Linked DNA regions of Homo sapiens: regions 1, 2, 4, 5 and 6 are each reported to be linked to region 3. The links are microRNA targets in miRTarBase. Many come from high-throughput screens and were not tested one by one. Region 3 holds a microRNA gene; each other region holds the end of a gene's coding sequence.

The links. The annotated mature microRNA hsa-miR-3606-3p reads AAAAUUUCUUUCACUACUUAG and lies in region 3 at 2,019-2,039, shown strand. An mRNA with a match to its seed (bases 2 to 7 or 8) in the 3' UTR can be bound and repressed. Matches are read on the target gene's strand: a 7mer-m8 pairs with bases 2 to 8, a 7mer-A1 pairs with bases 2 to 7 and ends in A, and an 8mer does both.
Region 1: the mRNA of ZRANB1 is a reported target of hsa-miR-3606-3p. Seed matches in the 3' UTR shown: 7mer-A1 at 956-962.
Region 2: miRTarBase lists DYRK4 as a target of hsa-miR-3606-3p. The part of its 3' UTR that is shown has no 7-base or 8-base seed match.
Region 4: miRTarBase lists ZCCHC9 as a target of hsa-miR-3606-3p. Seed matches in the 3' UTR shown: 8mer at 3,145-3,152.
Region 5: the mRNA of BTN3A3 is a reported target of hsa-miR-3606-3p. Seed matches in the 3' UTR shown: 7mer-m8 at 1,545-1,551.
Region 6: miRTarBase lists TRIM4 as a target of hsa-miR-3606-3p. Seed matches in the 3' UTR shown: 7mer-m8 at 3,597-3,603, 7mer-m8 at 3,441-3,447 and 7mer-m8 at 3,279-3,285.

The regions. Positions count from the first base shown.
Region 1 is chr10:124,984,227-124,988,319 of GRCh38, reverse strand. It overlaps ZRANB1 (zinc finger RANBP2-type containing 1), which reads right to left. Exons shown (of 9, transcript NM_017580.3): 9 at 131-3,546. The coding sequence ends at 3,328. CTBP2 (C-terminal binding protein 2) reads left to right here. Exons shown (of 11, transcript NM_001329.4): 11 at 1-4,003. Among named protein-coding and RNA genes, the nearest start is that of ZRANB1, 44 kb to the right of the region's middle.
Region 2 is chr12:4,613,051-4,617,132 of GRCh38, forward strand. It overlaps DYRK4 (dual specificity tyrosine phosphorylation regulated kinase 4), which reads left to right. Exons shown (of 15, transcript NM_001394779.1): 15 at 465-825. The coding sequence ends at 703. AKAP3 (A-kinase anchoring protein 3) reads right to left here. Exons shown (of 6, transcript NM_001278309.2): 6 at 2,468-2,844. The coding sequence ends at 2,689. Among named protein-coding and RNA genes, the nearest start is that of AKAP3, 34 kb to the right of the region's middle.
Region 3 is chr2:188,993,653-188,997,698 of GRCh38, forward strand. MIR3606 (microRNA 3606) reads left to right here and starts at 1,978; the gene lies at 1,978-2,040. COL3A1 (collagen type III alpha 1 chain) reads left to right here. Exons shown (of 51, transcript NM_000090.4): 17 at 386-430; 18 at 582-680; 19 at 889-942; 20 at 1,072-1,179; 21 at 1,394-1,447; 22 at 2,040-2,138; 23 at 2,473-2,526; 24 at 2,746-2,844; 25 at 3,513-3,566; 26 at 3,684-3,737.
Region 4 is chr5:81,312,126-81,316,223 of GRCh38, reverse strand. ZCCHC9 (zinc finger CCHC-type containing 9) reads right to left here. Exons shown (of 6, transcript NM_001131035.2): 6 at 2,927-3,680. The coding sequence ends at 3,562. It also overlaps a transcript of ACOT12 not described here. Among named protein-coding and RNA genes, the nearest start is that of ZCCHC9, 13 kb to the right of the region's middle.
Region 5 is chr6:26,451,621-26,455,710 of GRCh38, forward strand. BTN3A3 (butyrophilin subfamily 3 member A3) reads left to right here. Exons shown (of 11, transcript NM_006994.5): 11 at 55-1,795. The coding sequence ends at 791. Among named protein-coding and RNA genes, the nearest start is that of BTN2A1, 4.3 kb to the right of the region's middle.
Region 6 is chr7:99,888,355-99,892,450 of GRCh38, forward strand. It overlaps TRIM4 (tripartite motif containing 4), which reads right to left. Exons shown (of 6, transcript NM_033091.3): 6 at 2,049-4,096. The coding sequence ends at 3,809. Among named protein-coding and RNA genes, the nearest start is that of OR2AE1, 13 kb to the left of the region's middle.

The DNA.
Region 1 (4,093 bases), not on the chromosome of region 3:
TCAAGTACATCTCACTAATGTAAATGTTCTCTACTTGAGATGTTTAAGGCAATTGCATTGTCAATTAGCCAATTTCCAGCTCTTGTTACTACAGGGTTCCATAACCAGACTCAAGACCGCTGACAATTAATTACCTGTGATAACAAAAAGTTTAATTGAAAAATCAAAACCTCACACAAGTCCATCATTATCACGTCATGCCATCCTTAAGATGCAATGGTGGGTTAGTGCTAAATCAATTCAAAAAAAAACAAAGTTGCTCAACTTTTAGAGTTCTGACTTTAATCTACCCCAAAGCAAAATGACCTGGACCTGGTTCAAGGGAGGGAAGTGAACCTTGAAACTGTTTTGCCAATAACCTAACAAACAAAATGATATTTACAAAGAAGTGTTGCAAATAGTCCCATGAGTTAAGAGCTTGATTTAATGGATCTTCTTTTTAAATAGAATTAAACCTTTATACTAAAAGTATTTGCAAGTGTCAATTAAGTCCAACAATTCCAGGTATGAAACTCCCTCTGAGCTCTTCCTTATACTTCCCTTCCCAATTAAAACAAAACAAGAAAATCATGGTGTCTTAAAGCCTTTGGCTTGCCTGGCCTTGTCTGCTCACTCATTTTAAGGTGGTGGCCCCATCCCAACTCTACCATAAAAGTGTCTATTAACACAAGCTCACATGGAGAGAGACGGCGCTCATAGTTACTGACCTATTACCCCAGGGAACAAAAAGGTAGTTTAACGTCTTCGTAACCACTCATCAAAGAGGCAATGAAATATGCGTGAAAAGGAGGCCAAGCGCACACAGAATATCTTACCTTCACGAATATGTGAAGAAGTCTGGGACACGATGAACCTAAGAGTCAAAAACATAAAAAGGCAGGTCTGAATCCATGGTCCACCTGGGTTTTAATTATTAGATCTTGGTCGCCCAAACAAAAATTTATATATATATATATAAATTTGACCCCAAGGAAGAACAAGTCAAAACAAAATGCCACGCTCTGTTTGCTCTAGAAAAAGAACCATCAAGTCCACAGAGTGCAGGTATGACTTACTCTCCAGAGTCAGTCATTAATGTCTGTCACCTAGCCACGTATAATCATCTTTGAAAAAGGACTATATTCTATCTTGGGACAATAATTATGGCTGTTTTAATAGTTCAAGAGCATAATATAGCATTGATTTACCAAAATTTTTGGCCTTTAACAGCCAGTCTATGAAAACCATTTAGAGCCCCATTCCTGTCTGTAGCCTAGGAAATGGAACCATCTTTAATTCTTTCCCACAGGGAAGAATGCTGCACCTATCACACTATGTGGTCAGGGTCACTGATTGATAATAAATAAATAAATAATAGAGCGCTCAGGGGAAACAACACTCACCAGACCACAACACACAGTAGAAGCTAAGTGCTGAGCGTGTACTCTGGACAACGCTGGCTGCAATGCAGACTGCAATGGCTACATGCTTTTCCCTCTAACAATTCTCTTTGGCTTTTTCAATTGGGAGGGCAGATTTTGCTTAACAGGCAACTAGAACAGGATCTCTGCCCACTAAAAAATTATCCCTATACATAGAGAAATTACTACAGATGCTAAGTAGTCAGAATGCTAACATTTTCTACAAACTTGATTACTTATTGGCCAAAATGAAAGCAAACAGCCAATTTTTAACAACACATTCACCACTTGAAACAAACAGCAGCATTTACATTATATCAAAGATTCATTTCTACAGAATCGTACTAAAAAATCATTTTTCCTGCAAGATTTAGCATGCAGCAAAAAATGATCTTTTCATCCTGGGAACACCTTTTTACTGAGTTTTCGGGGGGAAAGAACTAAAGACATGACAGTTTTGTGGGTATTTTTCTATTTTTAGTATTCTGGCAGCAAATTTGAGGTTGTACACATTTCATTATCAACTAAACAAAACAAGAAGCAAGCAAATACTTTAAGGTTTTCACAGCCTTTTTCATCACAGGGAAGGAAAAAACTGTGTGTGTGTGTGTGTGTGTGTGTGTGTGTGCGCGCGCGCGCGTGCGTGTGTCGTCTTTCCAAATTCCTGGCCACATCAATAGTCTAGAAAGTGCTTATCAGGACACCAAATATTTCTGTGTTCCTGAGATAGGTCTGAAATTTTTACCCAGTATTGAATGTATACCTGAAGTGGTCAAATAATACTTCTTATAAAAAAGTTTTTCTACCTAAGATTATAGTTTTAACTTTAAATTAAAGAATGGCCACAATTAACCAACATGCAAAAATTCTCAGACTAAACACTGAGAAATTCTTCATACAATGCATTTGCCACCTTATTGCATTTTTAAAATCTTTATTCTGTAGTGAATTGGTATTCCCAATCTGCCTAAGCAAAGGCATGCCCTTCTAACAAGATTTGCTTAGAGCAGAGGTGATAGAAGGAAGAATCCGAAGACCCTCTGGCATGGCAATCTGGGAGCAGCACATTGTTGATGGAGTCCAAGTGAGCACATTTCACACAATTCATTTAGTGACAAGTGGGCTTGCTCCCTTTTCATCCAGGAAAAAAACTACTCACAGACCACTGCCCAGAATCTGGAATAAGAACCCTCATTTTAAGGTATTCTTCCCAACAAATAAATATCTAAATATTGAAAGGGGGCATATCAGAAAACTTAAAGACACAATAACCAAAACCAAAACCCTCTTCAAAACAAGTAAGCAATGTCTGTATTTAGTTCACTCTAAAACATTCTTAGCTTTTCTTGCAGTTTGTTCCTAAAAGATTTGATTGGGCACAAGAGGAACGAAATTATTAATAAAATAAAAGCTTATTTTTGTTTTGCTGTGGATAATCGGTACAAAACGTTTCCAGATCTGAGACTTAGATGGATCTTTTAAGGTGAAAGTAGAATGCCAGGTTCTACTGAAATAATATCTGAAAGGAACAAAGAGCCATTTGCCATGTGCTTTTTCTAAGTGCCCATGCTGGAAAAAATTTTCTCAATAATATGAAGATGCTGGTACAACTTTTCCTATTAAACAATGTCTTACACAACCACATGCGTTACATTTATAGACAGATTTACAATTTGGAAGGAAAAAAAGTTCTGTCTTAATAAAATTAGTTTTTTTTACAAACTGTAGTCCAACTAAAGTTCTCTGTCTCCTCACGCAGCAGAGGCATTATCTCCATAAGGTGTGTGTGGTCCAGGAAAACACTTCCCCGAGCAGATCCTGCCAGATTTGGTTCATTCCATGATGTCGACTCTGCTTGGAGCACCACACTAACTTTAGGGTCATTACAGATCTGATGCCTTGGTCTTCTGCTGTTTGATTTTTTTTTTCATTCATCTTCATCATCCTCATCTTCCTCTCCATCAGACAGGGATGTACACGGCCGGATCTGTCGGTAGCGGTCAAGCCATTTTTCTACCATCTGAGTGACCAGGGGGTGATTTCGCCGCCGAGAACTCTTCTGCATGGCAACCAGAACTCCCCCCTCCGTCACACAGCAGTCCAGCCACTCCCTGAGCAGTTTTTCTTGCTGTTCCTCATTACCTAGCTTTTGGAGGAATATGAAGACAAAGGGAAAATCATACAACAGATCAGAGACTTGGTAGGAATGTGACATGGAAACCTACAGCTGGTATGCTAACTCATGAAAAGGCCAAAGCAATCAACTTTTCACATGGTTTTGACCTCTTGGAAGTTTTGTGATTAAAGTCCAGTTTGCTCTGGTTAAATTTAAAAAGACATAAATGGGAAATTTCTCAGAAAAAAACTAAAGAGGAGCACACTAGAGGGTAATTTGTTAGATAAAATAAAAAACAAATGTCCTAATAAACTGATCCTGGCAAGCCACAGCTTCAAACACATGACAAGGTAAGTTTACTTAGTCAATTATGTACAAGCTGAAATTATACAAGTTACGGTCTATGAACTTTTTTTCTTCATGTTGTGATTATAAACGTTTTATAATTACTAGTATATTAAATAAAAGACCAATACTTTTATAAGAATACTGGCTTTCTGAAAGAGCGTTGTTTTTGTACCTTCTCACCACCTCCCCTGTCTGGTCTACAGCACCCTTTCACTCCCCTTCATCTACA
Region 2 (4,082 bases), not on the chromosome of region 3:
AATTTCCTTTCTCCTCCTCCCTTTTTCATTAACTGCGTCCACCCCTTTATGCCCTATAATTACCTTTAGAATTTCTGTCAGTGCCAGATTATGGCATTATGCAAATTTTTATATGCAATATAGCCTAGTGGTTAGGTACATGGTCACAAGAGTCAGGTTACCTGGGGATTAAATTCTGGTTCTACCACTTATCAGGTGTGGACTTAACCTCTCTGTAGCTCAGTATCTCCATTTATGAGAATGAGAATAAAGCCTGTTCTCCAGGGTCGCTGAAATGATCAGACGAATTAGTAAATGTACAGTGCTTAGAATAATGCCCGGCACATTGGAGGTGCTTTACAAATGAACTGTTTTTATATCATCACGGTCATCGTTTCCACTAAGTGATGTACAACCTAAAGGACAATTAACATATAATCCACATTTGAATCTTGTTCCCTTCTGTCTTCTCTCTCCTTTAGCAGATGAGATCACCAAAGAGACTACAGAGAAAACAAAAGATAGCCCCACGAAGCATGTTCAGCATTCAGGTGATCAGCAGGACTGTCTCCAGCACGGAGCTGACACTGTTCAGCTGCCTCAACTGGTAGACGCTCCCAAGAAGTCAGAGGCAGCTGTCGGGGCGGAGGTGTCCATGACCTCCCCAGGACAGAGCAAAAACTTCTCCCTCAAGAACACAAACGTTTTACCCCCTATTGTATGACCTTTGCTGAGGGTATGTCCTGCTCCTTTCCACCAGTGATTTGTATTAAGACAGCACTTATATTGTACAATACTTCAGACTGTTTTTTTTAAATACATAAAACTTTATGTTAAAAAACTCTATTAACATGGCCAATTGGCATGACTCCTCTTATGAGGGATGGGGGAGGATGTCCTTGCACTTAAACTCATTCCATATGCATCTGTGTGTGTAGAGGGGGCGGGTAGTTTTGAACTCTCAGTGTTACAGCATCATTAATGGAACTCCAAACAAAAGAAATTTTTTTTCTTCTTGCCCATGACTGCCAACCTATGTCAGGATTTTTGTTTGAAAATGATAGAAGCTGAATTCAAAAGCAGTTTAAACAACGGAAGACACTTATTGACTTACATAATTGGGGCATCAGAAAAGGTAGATGTAGTTTCAGGCGCAGCAGGATCCAGGAATTCAAATGAGGTTGTAGGGCTCAGACTCCCTCTTCATCTATTAGCCTTGCTTCTCACTATGGTTAACTTCATCCTGATGTCAGGCCCTGCTCAGAAGTTAACCGCCAACATCCAGTCAAAAAGATACAGGCTTCCTTGCTAACAGGGAGTCTCCAAAATGATTGTGACACAGAAATTGTGACTGGGATACTGGGATGCTTGGCCAGTCTGGGCCCCAAGCCCACAGTGATGGTGAAGGCACTGTGACTGATGCTTCTCTAGACTAGAGCAAGGGATGGAAGGTTTCCCAAAGGAAGGGAAGCTAAGTAAACAAGCAGGACATGTTCACTCATCTACCATACGCCAAATCTAAGTATGTCTTCTTACTTCCCTTTCTAATCCTCATCTACACAAATACATAATTTTTATGTGGTTGTCATAGGACAGATAGAATTTTACGTGAAACTTAAGATCATAACATCAGAAACAACATAGAGTATATAAAAATAGTTTTCTTTTTTGCTTGCCATTTGGAATAACCTCCCCCCAGTACAGTTTTCATTTTAATTGTTGCATAATATTTTATGAAGGGGGACACCAGGTCATTGAAGCAATGGATTTGGATGTAATCTCCCAGGAAAAATCTTGAGTTAGAATAGCAGAGGGTTGAGAGAAAGTCCCAGGAAAGACAAATATATAAGGAGTTGCCAGAGTTGAGGAGGTCCTCCAAGAGACCCAGAGATACAGAAAGAAAATTAGAAGCCAATGGAGAAGTTTCTAGACAGAAAGAGGAGTCAAGATAGAAAATTCCACAGAAAATCCAGGGTAAGAACAGAAAATATTTCTTAAGTGGGGTGATATGGACATTAAGTCAGAGCAGTGTTAGAACAGGTAACTTATCCCAGTTTCTATAGCCAGAAAGCCACAAAACCAGCAATAGAACTCAGATCCTTGGGAACATTCTTGAAACGATCTTCAACCATGGATGAAGTTGGAGGTGGACACTGTTCTGCAGCTCTACAGAGAATAAGAAGCCAGGTCTTCAACATTGTAATCAGGATGATTTTGATTGAATAATTCAAAAGTATCTTCTGATTTTCATGGTTATAAAAGGTTAAAATGAATTCTTGATAAACTGTGGCTTATTTTAAGAGAATAGTTTAAATAAGGAAGCTGCAAATTGTGACACAGACAGGGGACAGGCTGAGTGACCTTCAGCAGGGCCTCTCAGTCCAGCTCTGTTGTACCTCTACCATTCATCTGGTTATTTTTTTCACTCCTGGGATTTCTTTACCTGATTGTCCCATTGGATCCCAAGGAAACAAAACATGTGGAGCCCTTTAATTGTAATTTTTTAATTTTACGTCCTTGCTTGCATGGACAGGAAAATCTGCAAAATCCAGTGGCTAGCACAAGATGACATGTCTTTGATGAGAGTGGTGTGAAGATAATGTTAGGGCTCTGTGAGGATATAGAGGGGGAGATGTGGAAGTGAGAAAGAAGGGCGGGGATAAGGGCCGGCCCCACTGCCAGAAGAGGGGAAAGCAGTGGGGTTGCCGATTACAGGTTCACCATCAGCCAGTCCAGCAGCTGCAGCGGTGTGACATTCCCCACCGCCTCATTCAGCTGGCGCTCCTTCTCATAGCGCAGCACCGACTGCAGAACCTCGCCCACACTGCATCCTTTGTCCACAGCAGCAGCTGAGAGCTGAAGTAGCTGTGAAAGGAAAGAAAACACCAGTGGTGAGGCACAGCATCTCATGGCAGGCCAGATGGAGCCTGCCAAGGCTGGAGCAGAGAGGCCAGGCAGACCTTGGGAAACTGCAACACAGACTTTAAAGTTTGCTGGCCTGTTTAACAGAAGGAGGTTGGTGACTTCATTCTTAGTTTAAAGAAGAGATGTTAACACCCACCTGCCCATGATCTTGCTCTCTAAGAATTCTAAGGTTCTAAGCTCACCCTAATATCATAAAAGTCTCCATCATTGTCCTAAGACCAACAGGGCAGGATGGAAAATGTCCAGTGGACAAATGTGGATGCTGCTTTCCATGCCCCATAGACCACAGAATCCTAAAATGTTAGAGCAAAAAGGCACCTCAGAGATCAATTCAACCCTCATGAAAATGTTTCCCAGAGAAGTACAGAGATTTGTCAGAATTAACTGCTAGTAATTAGCAGAACCAAAATTCATTGCAGGTATTGGAGCCTATCTTTAGCTCTTTTTCCAAGTACAAAATGAGAAAGTTAAGCAACCATTCTAATATAAATACAACGCTGTCATTTATCTGGAATCCTAAGGGCAACAAACTCTCTCAAGTAATCAGATTTTTATTTTGTTCATTTTGCTCTTGACTTTTTACAACAAAGGGCAGGCAAATAAACACACCAAATATTGAGAGCCTCTTCAGAAAGAGAAATATCCATGTGAGAAACTGAAACAGAAGAACCAAATGGAAATTTTAGAACTAAAACTTACCTACAAAATATAAAATAAAAACCTGTCAGATGGGCTAAATAGCAGAATGTAAATGAGAGAGGAAAGTCAGTAAACTTGAAGGTAGATCAATAAAAATTATCCATGCTGAACAACATATGAAATTGATTAAACTTATTTCAAAAAACATTTAAAAAATAAACAGAGCCCAAGGACTTGTGGGCAATACCAAAAACTTTAACATTTATGTTATTAGAATACCAAAGAAGAGAAAAGCGATGATGCAAAACATATCTGAAGAAATAATAGATGAGAGTATTCCTAATTTGCCAAAAAGTTTTAAACCTATACATTCAAAAAGCTCAGGGTACCTAAAATAAAATAAACCCAAACCCAAACCCAAAGAAATTAACTCCAAGACCTACCATAACTAAATCACTGAAAATTAAAGAAAAAGAAAAAAATCTTAAAAGCATCCAGAGAAAACCATTTATAGGGGAACTGCAAGTCAAATGACAGCC
Region 3 (4,046 bases):
AGTTTTTGACTGTTGCACTATTCCAGAATTCATGATTTTTTATGTTTATATAAAAGAATAGAGGATAGACTAGTTTTCTGATGCTTTCAAGAATGTGCCCCAAGCTAATCACCAATCATAAAAATTCAGAGAAGAACCAAATTCAAAATCTCTTCTATTTATGTATCATTTAATAATTTATACGAAGTACATATTATCTCTAATTTATTTAGATAATGATGATTCTTTTGACCACATTTCATATGTTGTGTTATAGTTGGAGGATTCACTTAATCTCTACAAAGCATAACACTCATCGATACATTTATTTTCACACAAACAACTTCAAATATATACGAACTATTTGCATTACTATTAATACATTATCTGTTTTTTGTATACTTAGGGCCCTCCTGGGATTAATGGTAGTCCTGGTGGTAAAGGCGAAATGGTAAGCTGTCCCCACTCCTCAGCCTTATCTCATCCACACATTACTGGCTTCTTTTGCATTTTGCATGACAATAGATTTGTGATATTTAAGTGAGATATTCATAAAAGAACATTCAAGTTCGGCTAATATAGTGTCTTTGGTTTGTTCTTAGGGTCCCGCTGGCATTCCTGGAGCTCCTGGACTGATGGGAGCCCGGGGTCCTCCAGGACCAGCCGGTGCTAATGGTGCTCCTGGACTGCGAGGTGGTGCAGTAAGTTGCCTTGTTTTTTCTCTGTTGACTGAAAGGTATAGTTTAATTCCATCAACAAAAAATTAATAGCAAAATTTTGCTCCTGTTCAGTTGAATTTATATTGACTTCACTCTTGTCTTATAACTTATAACTGAATTATGTGTTACTGGTGATGATTTGTTAGTCGAATCCTCCCTGTGTTTCAACCAAGACTTTGTTATACTTTAGGGTGAGCCTGGTAAGAATGGTGCCAAAGGAGAGCCCGGACCACGTGGTGAACGCGTAAGTTTTACTGCAACAGATCTGGTTATTTCTTGAAAAAATGCAACATAATTAGAAAGTAAACAGGTAAAAACTTTGAACTAAATTCAGTCATAATTTCTTTATTTTACCATCTTTTTTTTTTTTCAGGGTGAGGCTGGTATTCCAGGTGTTCCAGGAGCTAAAGGCGAAGATGGCAAGGATGGATCACCTGGAGAACCTGGTGCAAATGGGCTTCCAGGAGCTGCAGGAGAAAGGGTACGTTTTCCATGGGGCATCTAAAAGAAAAGCAGCATCACTGTCATCTAAATAAAACTACCTTCAGGGTGAGACAGCCAATTTTTCTTAAGTTGAGTGTTCAGTGAAAATATTGTTTAAAGCATTCTATGACATAAAAATATTTGCCACTCAAGAATTATGAAAAAGAATTGAAATCCTTTGGACTGAAATACTTGTCTTTCATTATTTTCAGGGTGCCCCTGGGTTCCGAGGACCTGCTGGACCAAATGGCATCCCAGGAGAAAAGGTAGATAACTTTAGTTTCTATGTTCCTAAATGCTAGCACCACAAATGGGCAGTTCTTGTATACAATTTCTCATTCATGAAAACCTAAATATCTGAAGAATATATATTAGAGTTAAGAAAAATTCCTAATATAATGCATCCTCTGTTCAACAACTTTCCTGGCTTTGTAACTAAAGCCACTTACTTACCCTCTATGAGAATCCTTTACTTATCTGTTAATTGGAAAGCATTTATCTGAGCATCGTTGCAAGAGTACAGTAAACTAAAATGCCTGAAAAGTCTTTGAAAACTCTAAGGTTACATCAAATATGATTTCATAGCATTAAGATATTTGATTTTAGCTGCACATAATTATATTTTTAAGCACAGTGAATACTGTTTTATTAAGCATGTGATGTTCACAAAGTTGCTTTAAAATTTTTTCAATATGGCAATCCAAGCTAAGATAACTGATTTTATGTATAAATGTTTCAGCAACACACGAACCCTTTTTAAAAGTTCAAATGACGTCCTCTCTTTGTAACCAAAATATTGTTGCTATCTAGGTTAGTGAAGGCTATTTTAATTTTTTTAAAATTTCTTTCACTACTTAGGGTCCTGCTGGAGAGCGTGGTGCTCCAGGCCCTGCAGGGCCCAGAGGAGCTGCTGGAGAACCTGGCAGAGATGGCGTCCCTGGAGGTCCAGGAATGAGGGTACAGAGAAACATTTGTTTGAATGACACTTTAATTTAGACAGAAGAAAGGCAAGACAAATGAAGACAGATCAAAAGCAACTTAAATCAATCAGATTACATATTTTGTAAGGCACCAAACAAAACAAAATTCTTTTAAGTAAACTTAAGCCGAGATAGTTCAAGGAGAAGAGAAGATAGAACACTTGCCTTAGATACTTTATAGACAGGAAAAAAGATGTGCAAATCTGAGGCTTCACATGTAAGTGAAAATATCAAAATCATACAAATAGTGTATGTAGTAATTTTTTATTATTTCATTTTAAATCACCTAACAACTGACTTCTTTACTTCAGGGCATGCCCGGAAGTCCAGGAGGACCAGGAAGTGATGGGAAACCAGGGCCTCCCGTATGTACATTTTTAAAATCTCATTTTAAAAGGCCAGTTAAAATGGAATGTATATGTTGGCCTATCCTTGAGTGTGTGTGTGTGTGTGTGTGTATATATATATATGTATATGTATATCTATATATATACACACACACACACACACACACATACTATATATATAGCATGCTTTAATCTTCTCTTTATCAAACCTTTATTAATGTAATTTTTTCTTATTAGGGAAGTCAAGGAGAAAGTGGTCGACCAGGTCCTCCTGGGCCATCTGGTCCCCGAGGTCAGCCTGGTGTCATGGGCTTCCCCGGTCCTAAAGGAAATGATGTGAGTTCCTTCATTAATTTCTTCAATAAATATTTGACTGGAAGGCTTTTATTTTCCATATGGAGTAAAGAAATGGTCAAAACTCAGTCTCCTCTTCAAAGCATGGAGGAGTATATGAAAATCAAATTGCATGTAGGAAGGGAGCTAAATATATAATTGGTTATGGTTGTATGTGTGTGTATGGAGCAGGCAGATAAAAAATATGAAACAGGCTGGGTGCGCTGGCTCACGCCTGTAATCCCAGCACTCTGGGAGGCCAAGGCAGGCAGATCACCTGAGGTCAGGAGTTCTAGGCCAGCCTTGCCAACATGGTGAAACCCTGTCTCCACTAAAAATACAAAAATTAGCCAGGCATGGTGGCATGTGCCTGTAATCCTAGCTACCCAGGAGGCTGAGGCAAGAGAATCACTAGAACCCGGGGGGCAGAGGCTACAGTGAGCCAAGATTGCGCCACTGCACTCCAGCCTGGGCGACAGAGCAAGACTCAGTCTCAAAAATATGTATGTGTGTGTGTGTATATATATATATGAGACATATATATATGAGACATATATATATGAGACATATATATATGAGACATATATATATGAGACATATATATATGAGACAATAATATGATTAGTTATTGCCCTTTGAGGATTAGTAAATACCGACCACTTCTTCTTTAGGGTGCTCCTGGTAAGAATGGAGAACGAGGTGGCCCTGGAGGACCTGGCCCTCAGGTACGTAGCTTTCCTCAATTTATTTCTAGCCTTCTAATAGATGCGTTCATCTCCAACCTTCTGACTTCTCTCTGTAATCTGTATTATTTCTACTTCCCTAACTGTTCTTGTTTTTAGGGTCCTCCTGGAAAGAATGGTGAAACTGGACCTCAGGGACCCCCAGGGCCTACTGTAAGTTCACTCATATAAAATTGGAGATGAAAATAGGGTGGAGGTGGGGCAGGAAGAATGCTTCAAAAATTACATAATCTCTGACACCATGTTGTTACAGTTTACCAAAGCAATGATGAAACTTGCTGACCTAGTTATCTAGCTAAATGCTAGCATTGAGTTTAGAGTGTACATGTGTGCTTTGGGTCCAGGTCCTCCCTTTTCTTCACATCACTACTTTTATAATTAAGCAACAGGCCTGTTGAAATGGATACTGTAGACTAAATATAAAAGGATGTTTACAACAGAGTGTATCATTATACTTTTCTA
Region 4 (4,098 bases), not on the chromosome of region 3:
TAGATTAAAAGCCAGTTAGTTGTACACTTTAAAAGTGTGAATTTTATCGTATGTGAATTATATCTCAATAAAGCTGTTAGGGGAATAAAACCAAAACTTTCCCATGGCTTCCTAAATTTTCCAGTGTGATACTGCCCCCACCACCTCTCTGACTTCGTCAAATGATAAATACATATTATGGGCCTACTATGTGCTAAGTACTGTTTTAGGCATTTGGGGTATATCAGTGAACAGACAAGAATCCACCCCCCGTGGAGATTATATTCTAGCAGAGAGATGGGACAAAAACGACACATATAATAAATAACTTAATATGGTAGAAGGTGATAAATGACACAGAAAAACATAAAGCAAAGTAAGGGGAACCAGGAGTGCCAGTGTTAGGATGGAGATGTAGATTCTGTTTTAAATAGGGTGGTCAGAATAGCCCTGATGTGGCCCTTCTCTAGGCTTCAGCTACACTCCTTTCTGTCCCTCACATATGGCAAACTCATTCTCTCTTTAGGGGTTTTGGCTAACTCAAGACTGGTTCCTTTGTGTCATTCAGATTTCAGCTTTAAAATTTCCACAGAGGCCTCCTCTTGATTATCCAATCTAAGAGCTACCCAGTCACTTGCATCATCTCTCTGTTGATTCCTTTTATATCACTCATTGAATTAACTCATTCAACAAATGCAAATGCTTCATACATTCCAAGCATTTCTAGGGATATAGCAATGAACAAGAATCAAAATTCCTGCCCTCGTGTAACCTATAATCTGGTAGAGAGGGAACAAATAGAGCTATAGTGTTAGGTATTGGGATGAGGAAGCAAGGAGCTGCTCTTTCCTATAAGGATGGTCATAGAAAGACTCAAGCTGGTCATAGCAGATGCCTGAAGGAAATAAGCAGGGATGGGGGGCTGGCCATGGGGACTGGAGGGAATGTCAAGTAAAGAGCAACTTGAGATTCAGGCCTCATGGCTTGGAACATAATTGTAGTGAAAAAAGAGACAAAAAGGTAAACTCACTTTTTCCCCAGGGGAAAGTGAGTCTGTTTAAAGCCATATTGAATTTGAAGTATTAGTGGAGCATCCCAGTAGGAACATTCAGGAGGCAGGTGAAAAGACGGGACTGAAACCTGGGATTTTAGGGCTAGCTGGAGATTTAGGAATCATTTATGGAAAAGTGAAAGATAAGTTTGTAAGAAGAGATGAAATTTACAAAAGACCGAAGGAGCACTAAAGACTAAGTCTTAGGGGATTCAGCTGGGTGTAGTGGCTCATGCCTATTGTAATCCCAGCAACTCAGGAGGCTGAGGCGGGAGGATCGCTGGAGCCCAGGTGTTTGAGGCTTCAGTGAGCTACGATTGCATCACTGCACTCCAGCCTGGGTGACAGGGTAAGACCCCATCTTAAAAATTTTTTAAAGTCTCAGGGGATTCAAAAAATATTTTAGGAATGTAATAAAACATTTCTTGCTGGTATTTTCCCTAAGTCTCCTGTCCATTATTCAGCCCCATTATAATGCATGTGGTCTTGTCTGTCTTGCTGACTGCCACAATTTCAAGTGCATAAGAGTAACAGGAACATAGTAGTGCTTGGGAAATATATAAGATGAATGAATAAATTGTTTGCCTTCCTCTTTAGGCATTTTTAGCTAAGAAAATAACCAACGTCTATAGTTCCTTTTAATGAACACTCAGGATCTCTCAGGATTTCTGCCTCTGGTGCATTCCTTTTAGTGTCTCTACACGTGTTTAATGTTACATTCAGTACCTGCAGTTTATTTCTAATGACTTCACTGCCTAATATTTATAGATCATTAAAATATAAACAAAGTAGGCCGGGCATGGTGGCTCAAGCCTGTAATCCCAGCACTTTGGGAGGCCGAGGCGAGCAGATCACGAGGTCAAGATTTCGAGACCAGCCTGGCCAACATGGTGAAACCCCATCTCTAGTAAAAATGCAAAAATTAGCGGGGTGTGGTGGTGCGTGCCTATAATCCCAGCTACTCAGGAGGCTGAGGCAGGAGAATCGCTTGAAGCCAAGAGGCAAAGGTTGCAGTAAGCCAAGATTGTGCCACTGCACTCTAGCCTGGGTGACAGAGTGAGCTATCAAAAAAAAAATTATACACACACACACACACAAAAAGTAATCCAAAAAAGACAAAGTGGATACCAACATTCTTGCACTGAAGACTACAAAAAGCATTAGACCTAACTTTCAGCTGACAGGCTGTAGACTCTGCTCCTGATGGGACAGGTGAAATAAATCTGGGTGCGTTCGGACTAGATGACTAAGGCAGCATTACTGTCCTTTTCCAACTGCCTGGCTTGTGCAATTCCTTCTAAATAGCACTCATTTCCTTAAGCTCTGGGATGCTGAGCAGTATTTTGTCATGTTTTCCTCTCACACTGAAATAAAAGAACAGCTCCTATTAAGACTAGAACTGTCGAGTTGTGCAGAGATGAAAACAGAGAAAAGTGTTTCTTTTCTTATTTGGTAAATATTTTGCTTTTGAGGCATCAGTAACTAATCACAGCTGTTTCCTTTAGTTACAAATGGATTCAATCAGGTAAAATTTCAAATGAAACACAAAACCACTAGAGTCATTCCATTATACAGTACAATGGTAGTGTTAAGCCTTGTGAAATATATGTATTAAGTATGCATGAATTCATCAAATCAAACAAAGAAGCTAATGGGTCTCTGATTAGTGTTCTAACTCTATTATGGTGATACTTCCATCTTACTCTGACTCATCTAAAACATGAGAACAAAATGCTATTAAGTTTATTATACCATCTGTTATCTGCCATCATTCTGGTTAAGTAACAAAAACTGAATTTTGGCTAGAAGTTCTCTCTTGAAAATCAAGGGCAAAAAAGAGCTGCTGTTAAACTGAGATATTTCAATTTTAACTTCAGTAACTTGGAATCCTTTATGTCAAAACTAAAACAAAAACCAAATCCCTGTTTATTCTCATCTAGGATTCAAAAAAAATCTTGTTTCCAATGGGATTGTTACATGGATATTAACGAACAATGGATATTTCAATCGAGAATCAAGTATTCAGAAAAATTATACACAAAAATATTTCTATTGCTTAATAGAAAACATATTTTTATTCCGTACTTTAAAAATATAGACTTTCTAGCAACTTATAAATTTCTATTATAATAATAAATTGATACTTTGAGCCAAGAAAACAATATAACCAAAAATTCATTTGTTCCCTTTGTTTAGGGGTGTTTTACATTTATGCATAATTTTGCTTTTATAAAAGATGATTGTTACAATCAGGTATACAACTACTTGGTTATGTCTAAGTTCTGTCTCTTAAAATATGTTCTTTTAGAGAATTCATTTAATCATCTTATTCTTTTCTTCAATTTTCTCCAAACAGTGGTAGAAGTACTATTTGATAGACAGAATAAAGAAAATTGTTTTTGGCCACACCCAGATCATACTGATATCTACAGCATAGTCCTGGCTACAGGGGAGCTCAACTCTAACTCGTGAAGCGGGCCTGGTTTAGAAAGTAACAATGAGGTAGTAACTCATGATAGTGCTAGCTGTTATCAAAAATTAACAACTTTAGGTATTTTTGTTTTGGGTTTTTGCGGTTTAGGTACATCCAAAATTTCTTCATAGTCTGCACTCATTCCCTTTGCCCAGCGACCAACTGTGACCATTCGCTCTGTAAAGGAATAGAAAAATCAGAATGTTAGAAAAACAGTAATCAAATGCATCCACTCAGATTGTTATTGGTTTGGGAAAGGAACTCATTTTGATATGAATAATCACAAGGAGGGAAGACTCCATCACTAAAGGAAAGTGAGCAATTCTGTAATTGATTATAACCCTTGATTTCAGAGTACCACAGGCAATTTCTCATCCCAATTAGGGAAATGCAGCAACTACTTTGCAATGCACGAACTGATGAGAAAGCTCTTTCATTCTTTCCCAGAGTTCATCATTACAGAGTCAATGAATTCCAAGAGTCTGTAAACAGCAAGGCTTATGAAGCATCAGTTTTAAATGCACAAGATTCCACCTGTGAAATTATACAACATCTGCTTGTCAGTCTTGTCATTTGGGAAGTGGCAATCCTCCCA
Region 5 (4,090 bases), not on the chromosome of region 3:
TGAAATCCAGGAAAAATGGCTGACCCCATGGACACCTCCTCAAACTCTCTGCAGCGGATGTGATTCTGGATCCAGACACGGCAAACGCCATCCTCCTTGTTTCTGAGGACCAGAGGAGTGTGCAGCGTGCTGAAGAGCCGCGGGATCTGCCAGACAACCCTGAGAGATTTGAATGGCGTTACTGTGTCCTTGGCTGTGAAAACTTCACATCAGGGAGACATTACTGGGAGGTGGAAGTGGGGGACAGAAAAGAGTGGCATATTGGGGTATGTAGTAAGAACGTGGAGAGGAAAAAAGGTTGGGTCAAAATGACACCGGAGAACGGATACTGGACTATGGGCCTGACTGATGGGAATAAGTATCGGGCTCTCACTGAGCCCAGAACCAACCTGAAACTTCCTGAGCCTCCTAGGAAAGTGGGGATCTTCCTGGACTATGAGACTGGAGAGATCTCGTTCTATAATGCCACAGATGGATCTCATATCTACACCTTTCCGCACGCCTCTTTCTCTGAGCCTCTATATCCTGTTTTCAGAATTTTGACCTTGGAGCCCACTGCCCTGACCATTTGCCCAATACCAAAAGAAGTAGAGAGTTCCCCCGATCCTGACCTAGTGCCTGATCATTCCCTGGAGACACCACTGACCCCGGGCTTAGCTAATGAAAGTGGGGAGCCTCAGGCTGAAGTAACATCTCTGCTTCTCCCTGCCCACCCTGGAGCTGAGGTCTCCCCTTCTGCAACAACCAATCAGAACCATAAGCTACAGGCACGCACTGAAGCACTTTACTGATATTCATTCCATTATTCCATATGACAGTTGTTTTGAGTTTCGTACCACCTTATTGTCCCCTTATACAGATAAGGAAACTGGGGTGCAGAAAGGTGAATTAACTTTACAAAGTAGACATGACAAGTGAACAGCAGAGCTGGGATCTAAACAGCAATAACTAACATTAACAGAGAATTTAAAATGTTCTTAGTGCTGTGTTATAAGCTTTGGTGGATGTCACTCCTTTAATCCTCACAACACCCTGTCGGGTAGTCATATTTTGCAAGTATGGAAGCTGAGGCAGGGCAACATGAAGTAACTTACATAACTCATACAGTAATTTGTGCAGTTGGGAGATGTTCAGCCTTAGTCCCTGGCTAATTGCCTGTTCTTTTCCAGCCTGATTTTTTTTCCCACAGGAAGAGCCCACATGTAGCCCTGAGGTTTCCTTCCCAGGACAGCTGCAGGGTAGAGATCATTTTAAGTGCTTGTGGAGTTGACATCCCTATTGACTCTTTCCCAGCTGATATCAGAGACTTAGACCCAGCACTCCTTGGATTAGCTCTGCAGAGTGTCTTGGTTGAGAGAATAACCTCATAGTACCAACATGACATGTGACTTGGAAAGAGACTAGAGGCCACACTTGATAAATCATGGGGCACAGATATGTTCCCACCCAACAAATGTGATAAGTGATTGTGCAGCCAGAGCCAGCCTTCCTTCAATCAAGGTTTCCAGGCAGAGCAAATACCCTAGAGATTCTCTGTGATATAGGAAATTTGGATCAAGGAAGCTAAAAGAATTACAGGGATGTTTTTAATCCCACTATGGACTCAGTCTCCTGGAAATAGGTCTGTCCACTCCTGGTCATTGGTGGATGTTAAACCCATATTCCTTTCAACTGCTGCCTGCTAGGGAAAACTGCTCCTCATTATCATCACTATTATTGCTCACCACTGTATCCCCTCTACTTGGCAAGTGGTTGTCAAGTTCTAGTTGTTCAATAAATGTGTTAATAATGCTTACTCCTCAGCTTGGCTTTTTCTAGACTGTGGTGTCTACTCAGCACAGTAGTCTGCACACCCACTGTACTCACCACAGTCTCAGTTTACCTCACTGCAGCATTTTCACAAGACCCTTATTGGATGCATTTTCTGTTGTTGCCATCTGAATTACCAGAAATGTATAGACATTTTTTTTTTTTTGAGATTGGATTGTGCCACTGTACTCCCAGGCTGGAGTACAGTGGCACGATCTCAGCTCACTGCAACCTCCACCTCCCAGGTTGAAGTGATTCTCCTGCCTCAGCCTTCCGAGTAGCTGGGACTACAGGTGCGTGCCACCACGCCTGGCTAATTTTTTGTGTTTTCAGTGCAGACGAGGTTTCACCATGTTGTCCAGGATGGTCTCGATCTACTGACCTTGTGATCCACCCACCTCGGCCTCCCAAAGTGCTGGGATTACAGGTATGAGCCACCGCGCCTGGCTTCAGAAATTCATGAACTTAAAGCAACACAAATTTATTATCTCACTGTTCTGTAGGTGAGAAGTCAGAAGTCCCACAGGGATCTCACCAGGCTAGAATCAAGGTGTCTGCAGGCTGGATTCCTTTCTGGAGTCTCTAAGGAAGAATCTGTTTCCTTGCTTATTCAGACTATTGGCAGAATCAGTTCCTTTCATTTATAGGACTGACGTCCCAGTTGTTCCCTGGTTTTTAGCTAAGGGCTGTACCCACTTCTAGAGGCTGCCACACTCTGGCTCCTAGCTCCCTTCCTGTATCTTCAAAGCAGCAACAGCGCATTGAGGCTCATCTCCTAGGTCTTTTTCTCCATTGTGTCTCTCTGATTCTTTTACCTTCTCCTTTTTTTCCTTCCTTTCTTTTTTTTTTTTTTTTCTTCTTTGACAAGGACTCGCTCTGTCACCCAGGCTGAAGTGCAGTGGCGTGATCTCAGCTCACCACATTGTCCCCTGGGCTCAAGCAATCCACCCATCTTAGCTTCTCAAGCAGCTGGGAGCACAGAGCCACATCACCATGCCTGGGTATTTTCTTGTAGAGACAGGGTCTTGCCATGTTGCCCAGGCTGGTCTCAAACTCCTGAGCTCAAGCAATCTGCCCACCTTGGTCTCCCAAAGTGCTGGGATTATAGGCATGAGCCACCACGCTCAGTCTGCCTTTTACTTTTAAAGACTCCTATGATTAAACTGAGATCACCCAGACAATTTAGAATAATCTCTCTATTTTAAGGTCCATAACCTTAATTCTGTGTAAAATTCATTTTACTGTGTTATACATTCTTTTCATAACTTTCATAGTGAATATAGCTCAAAGGGTGGGTGCGGGGAGCACTATTCAGCTCACCACACTGATTTGGGAAGTGATTCCAGGAAACACAAGTGCAGAAACAAATTGAGAAATGAAAAAAAGCCAATTACATGACAAATGGGATAAAGGGTTCACTCATGAGTCAGTTACCATGTGGATAACTTGGCTGAATCCCTTTTAGGACTCTCTAAGAAACCATATGAAATGTGTGATATAGCTCAGAATCTTCCTAAGGACTACAGGGCCTGGGACTTTATCTCCACTTCCCATCCTCCTTTGCTTGAATTGGTTGAAGGTTGGCCTGGGAGTGTTAATTCTAATGCACTTTAAGATTGGGCTATGTAACTGCAGAAAAGCAACTATCACGGGTGTGATAAAGCTCACAGGCAAAGGAGAAGGGAGATACTCACTGGAGGTGGAAAGGTTGTCATCCTTGCAGAAAACTGTGCCTCAGCTATTGGCAAACTGTGATAGGCCAAGAGAATATGGGATGGGGCATCAACAGCGTCTGTTATAAGGGCTCTGCCTCTGAGAATATAGTGAATGCCTTTCAAGGTCTCTCTGCCCTCGCTGTACCACATTTAGCATTAGTGACCTCTTCTCTTCCAATACATGCCCACATCACATGGCCCTGCAGCCTCACCACATGGACTGGGTCTGGGATGGACACCTGACCCAGGCTAGGCCAGAGGACCAAGTGACATGTGGCTAGTTACTCCTGTAGCAGATGTGCATGGGAGCTGTGGGAAGAAATGCTCCATTCATGGTGTGGACTAAACAATGGTGGATTGCAGAGAAGACCAAAGCAGATGAGCAGAGAGAAGGCTACAAGATGGAAAGAGTTTAGGCAAATTTCTCACGTTTGGTTCTTTTAGAAGCCCAGTATCATTTCTTCTTTTTGAAAAAATGTGTTCTTTTGAGGCAAGATAAATGTACTCGTTAATATTGCTTGTAGTCCTAATATTCAGAAGCTTATGCAACTATTATAATATGTTCA
Region 6 (4,096 bases), not on the chromosome of region 3:
CCTCCCGGACGGGGCGGCTGGCTGGGCGGGGGGCTGACCCCCCCACCTCCCTCCCGGACGGGTCGGCTGCCGGGCGGAGAAGCTCCTCACTTCCCAGACGGGGTGGCTGCCGGGCGGAGGGGCTCCTCACTTCTCAGACGGGGCGGCTGCTGGGCGGAGGGTCTCCTCCCTTCTCAGATGGGGCGGCCGGGCAGAGACGCTCCTCACCTCCCAGACGGGGTCGTGGCTGGGCAGAGGCGCTCCTCACATCCCAGACGGGGTGGCGGGGCAAAGGCGCTCCCCACATCTCAGACGATGGGCGGCTGGACAGAGACGCTCCTCGCTTCCTAGATGGGATGGTGGCCGGGAAGAGGCGCTCCTCACTTTCCAGACTGGGCAGCCAGGCAGAGGGGCTCCTCACATCCCAGACGATGGGCGGCCAGGCAGAGACGCTCCTCACTTCCTAGACAGGGTGGCGGCCGGGCAGAGGCTGCACTCTGGGCACTTTGGGAGGCCAAGGCAGGCAGCTGGGAGGTGGAGGTTGTAGCGAGCCGAGATCACGCCACTGCACTCCAGCCTGGGCACCATTGAGCACTGAGTGAACCAGACCCGTCTGCAATCCTGGCACCTCCGGAGGCCAAGGCTGGCAGATCACTCGCGGTTAGGAGCTGGAGACCAGCCCGGCCAACACAGCGAAACCCCGTCTCCACCAAAAAAATACGAAAACCAATCAGGCGTGGCGGCGCGCGCCTGCAATCGCAGGCACTCGGCAGGCTGAGGCAGGAGAATCAGGCAGGGAGGTTGCAGTGAGCCGAGATGGCAGCAGTACAGTCCAGCTTCGGCTCGGCATCAGAGGGAGACCGTGGAAAGAGAGGGAGAGGGAGAACGTGGGGAGAGGGAGACCGTGGGGAGAGGGAGAGGGAGAGGGACAGGGAGAGGGAGAGGGACTTGGTTGGCTTTTTAAACAAAAATGAACACCTAGGTCCCATCCCATACCTGATGAGACCAGAGGGGTCAATATCAAGACTCAAGCACAGAGACAAAGAATTGTGAAGAATAAGAAGGGTAGGGGAAAAGAATTTTTTCTCTGTTGAAGATGCAAGTTCTTTGCAATCGTATGAAGGGGGACTCATGAAGGCTTAAAAGGAAAAGTTTGGAATCATTGCCACCAAAGACGTTAAAACAAGTCAAGTGATAAAAAAAGTTTACCATGCAGCTCAAAGGGCCCACTTGAAGGCAGAGAGCAAGGATTTATAGCAGAATCAATCAACCTTTCAATAGCCAGAAGGAAGAGAGGAGGGAAGGTACTGATGAGTTTCCAAAGGATTAGCTATTAGTAAGACAGGCACTGAAGGACGTCCTGAAGGGCAAGTGTAGTCATCATTTCCTAAGGTGGCCATAACAAACTGGGTGGCTTAAAACAATGGAAATTTACTGTCTAACCTCAGTTTTGGCAGTTAGAAATCAGAAACCAAAGTGTTGATGGGGCCATGCTCCCTTCAAAGCTTCTAGGGGAAGATTCTTCCTGGCTTCCCCCAGCTTCTGGTAGCCCCAGGTTCCTTGGCTTGTGACAGCATAACTCCAATCCAATCTCTGCCTCCATCTTCCAGAGCCTCTTTCACGTTGTTTCCATCTGGCATTTTTCTGTGTGTGTGTGGGCATGAGTGTGTGAACATATGCATAAGTTTCCTTCTTTTTATAAGGACACCAGTCATATTGGGTTAGAGCCCACCCAAATGACCTTATCTTGTTTACATCTGCAAATATCCTATTTCCAAATAAGGTCATTTTCACAGGTAGCTCTTCAACATATGTTTTTGGGGAACATAATTCAACCTATAACAGCAAATATCCTGGGAAGTTGAGAACTCAGTAGAAACTGTTGAATGAGGGGGCTGCTCAGGCTGAATAGGAAGACAAGCCAAGATGGCTGATGTATAAGAAGGGGAGGAGGGGAGGAGGAGTTAGGGAAGATGCTGTAAGTTGTGTAAGAATCCTCACTACCACCATTCAACCCAGCAATCCCATTATTCGGTATATGCCCAATACCCAAAGACATCATTCAACCATAGAGACATATGCATGTATATATTCATTGCAGCACTATTCACAATAGCAAAGACATGGAATCAACCTAAATGCCCATCAACAGTAGACTGGATAAAGAAAACATAGTACATATACACCATGGAATACTATGCAGCCATAAAAAAAGAATGAGATCATGTCTTTGCAGCAACATGGATGGAGCTGGAGGCCATTACCCTAAGCAAACCAACACATGAACAGAAAACCAAACATCACATGTTCTCACGTATAAGGGAGAGCTAAACATTGAGTACCCATGGACACAAAAAAGGGAACAACAGACACCAGGGACTACTTGAGGGTAGAGGGTGGAGGAGGGTGGGGTATCAAAAAAGTATCTATTGGGTACTATGCTTATTACCTGGGTAATGAAATAATATGTACACCAAACCCCTGTGACATGTAATTGATCTATAGAACAAACCTGCACGTGTTCCCCTTAAACTAAAATATAAGTTAAAATAAAATCCTCGTTAAATCACTGCCTGAAAGTCTTTACTGAAAATCTGGGAGAAAATATATTGAAATGTTAGTAGTGCATAACTTTAATTTTTATACTTTTTGCATCTTACAAACTTTCTACAATAAGTACACATGACTTATATAAACAGAGAAAAGCAATCATTATCTTAAAAATAACTATCCAGTAACTGCCACAATCTCCTGAGTCCAGACAATCTAGAGCAGAAGGGTAGACTGAGGAAAATATACACAGTATAAAAAAGTAACAAAATCAAAACCTGAAACAAAGATCAACATCCAATAAATGCTTCTGAATAAAGGGAGAGTAGATAAGAACTGGATTTTAATCCCAACACTGCCATTTACCAGCTGGCCAATACTGAGCTAGTTACTCTAAAGAGTTCAGTTTTCTCATTTGTACAAATAGGATTTGACTTTCCATCTCACTGAGTTGTGATGAGAGTCATATGCAACAGCATATGAAGAGGCTAGCAAAAGATATTTAACAAGCGTTCAACATTCTCATGATGACATGAATAACACTGTACATACAACATACCAACTTGATAAATACACAGCACAGTTAATAGCTGAGGGCAGAGTTATGGTTGGGAAGAGAGAGAGTGCAACATAGGCAGAGTGAGGGGGGATTCCCACAATTTTCTAAGACAGAAAAGTGGGGGAATCAGTAGTTACTGGAAAGAATAGGCAATGCCTGACTGGATAGAAAAAGATTCTATGCCTTTGTCAAATTTCACAAAAGTGACTTAAGCCTATACTGCGGGATGTTCACACTACGTCCCTTTAGTGCAGTTACGGTACTTCAGGCTGCAAGTAACCAAATACAACTAAAATTGTCTTATACAATAAGGGCGTAATTATCTCATATAACAAGAAGCTTGGCATGAAGGAAATTTCAACAATTTCACAACGGCAACAAAAACTCTGTTTCTTCTACCTTTCCACCATTCCTGTGTTCTCAGTTCCAATATGGCTGCTAACATCCATATGTCTTCCCCGCACATCTCTTTAAAAGCTACAAAAAGATTTCCCAAAAGCGTCTTGGAAAATTTCCTGTCCCATCTCCATTGGCCAGACCCACCTCCCATGGGACTGCCTCTTGTGAAGCACACAAAGGGCAGATACCAAACGGTACCGTTAGGGAGACCCAGAAGATGGACCATCCAGGATAGAGACATGAAGGGCAGAAGAGGGCCCAGGGATGTGTGTCCCTCAGCTGGACTACAGGGAAGGAGTTTTGGTCAGGGGAAGAAAAGCCTCATTTCCTATCAGTCACTGGTGGAATGACTAAAGATGCTAATGGACTCAACCAAAAAAATGGCCGGAGGCGTGAGACAGAAGAACAAGAAAAGGTGTGCAGGTGCACTCCGTCCACAGCGCTGTAGAAGGAGACATTCCCAGTCCCACGATCCAGGTAAACCCCCACTCGGTGGAGAGCTGGCTCTTGCTGGGTGGGAGTTCCAGGGAAGCCTATCAAGGGCCAATAGCCAGCAGCACTCCAATAAATCGCCCAGATGCCCACATCTGGGGACATTTTTGAACGATC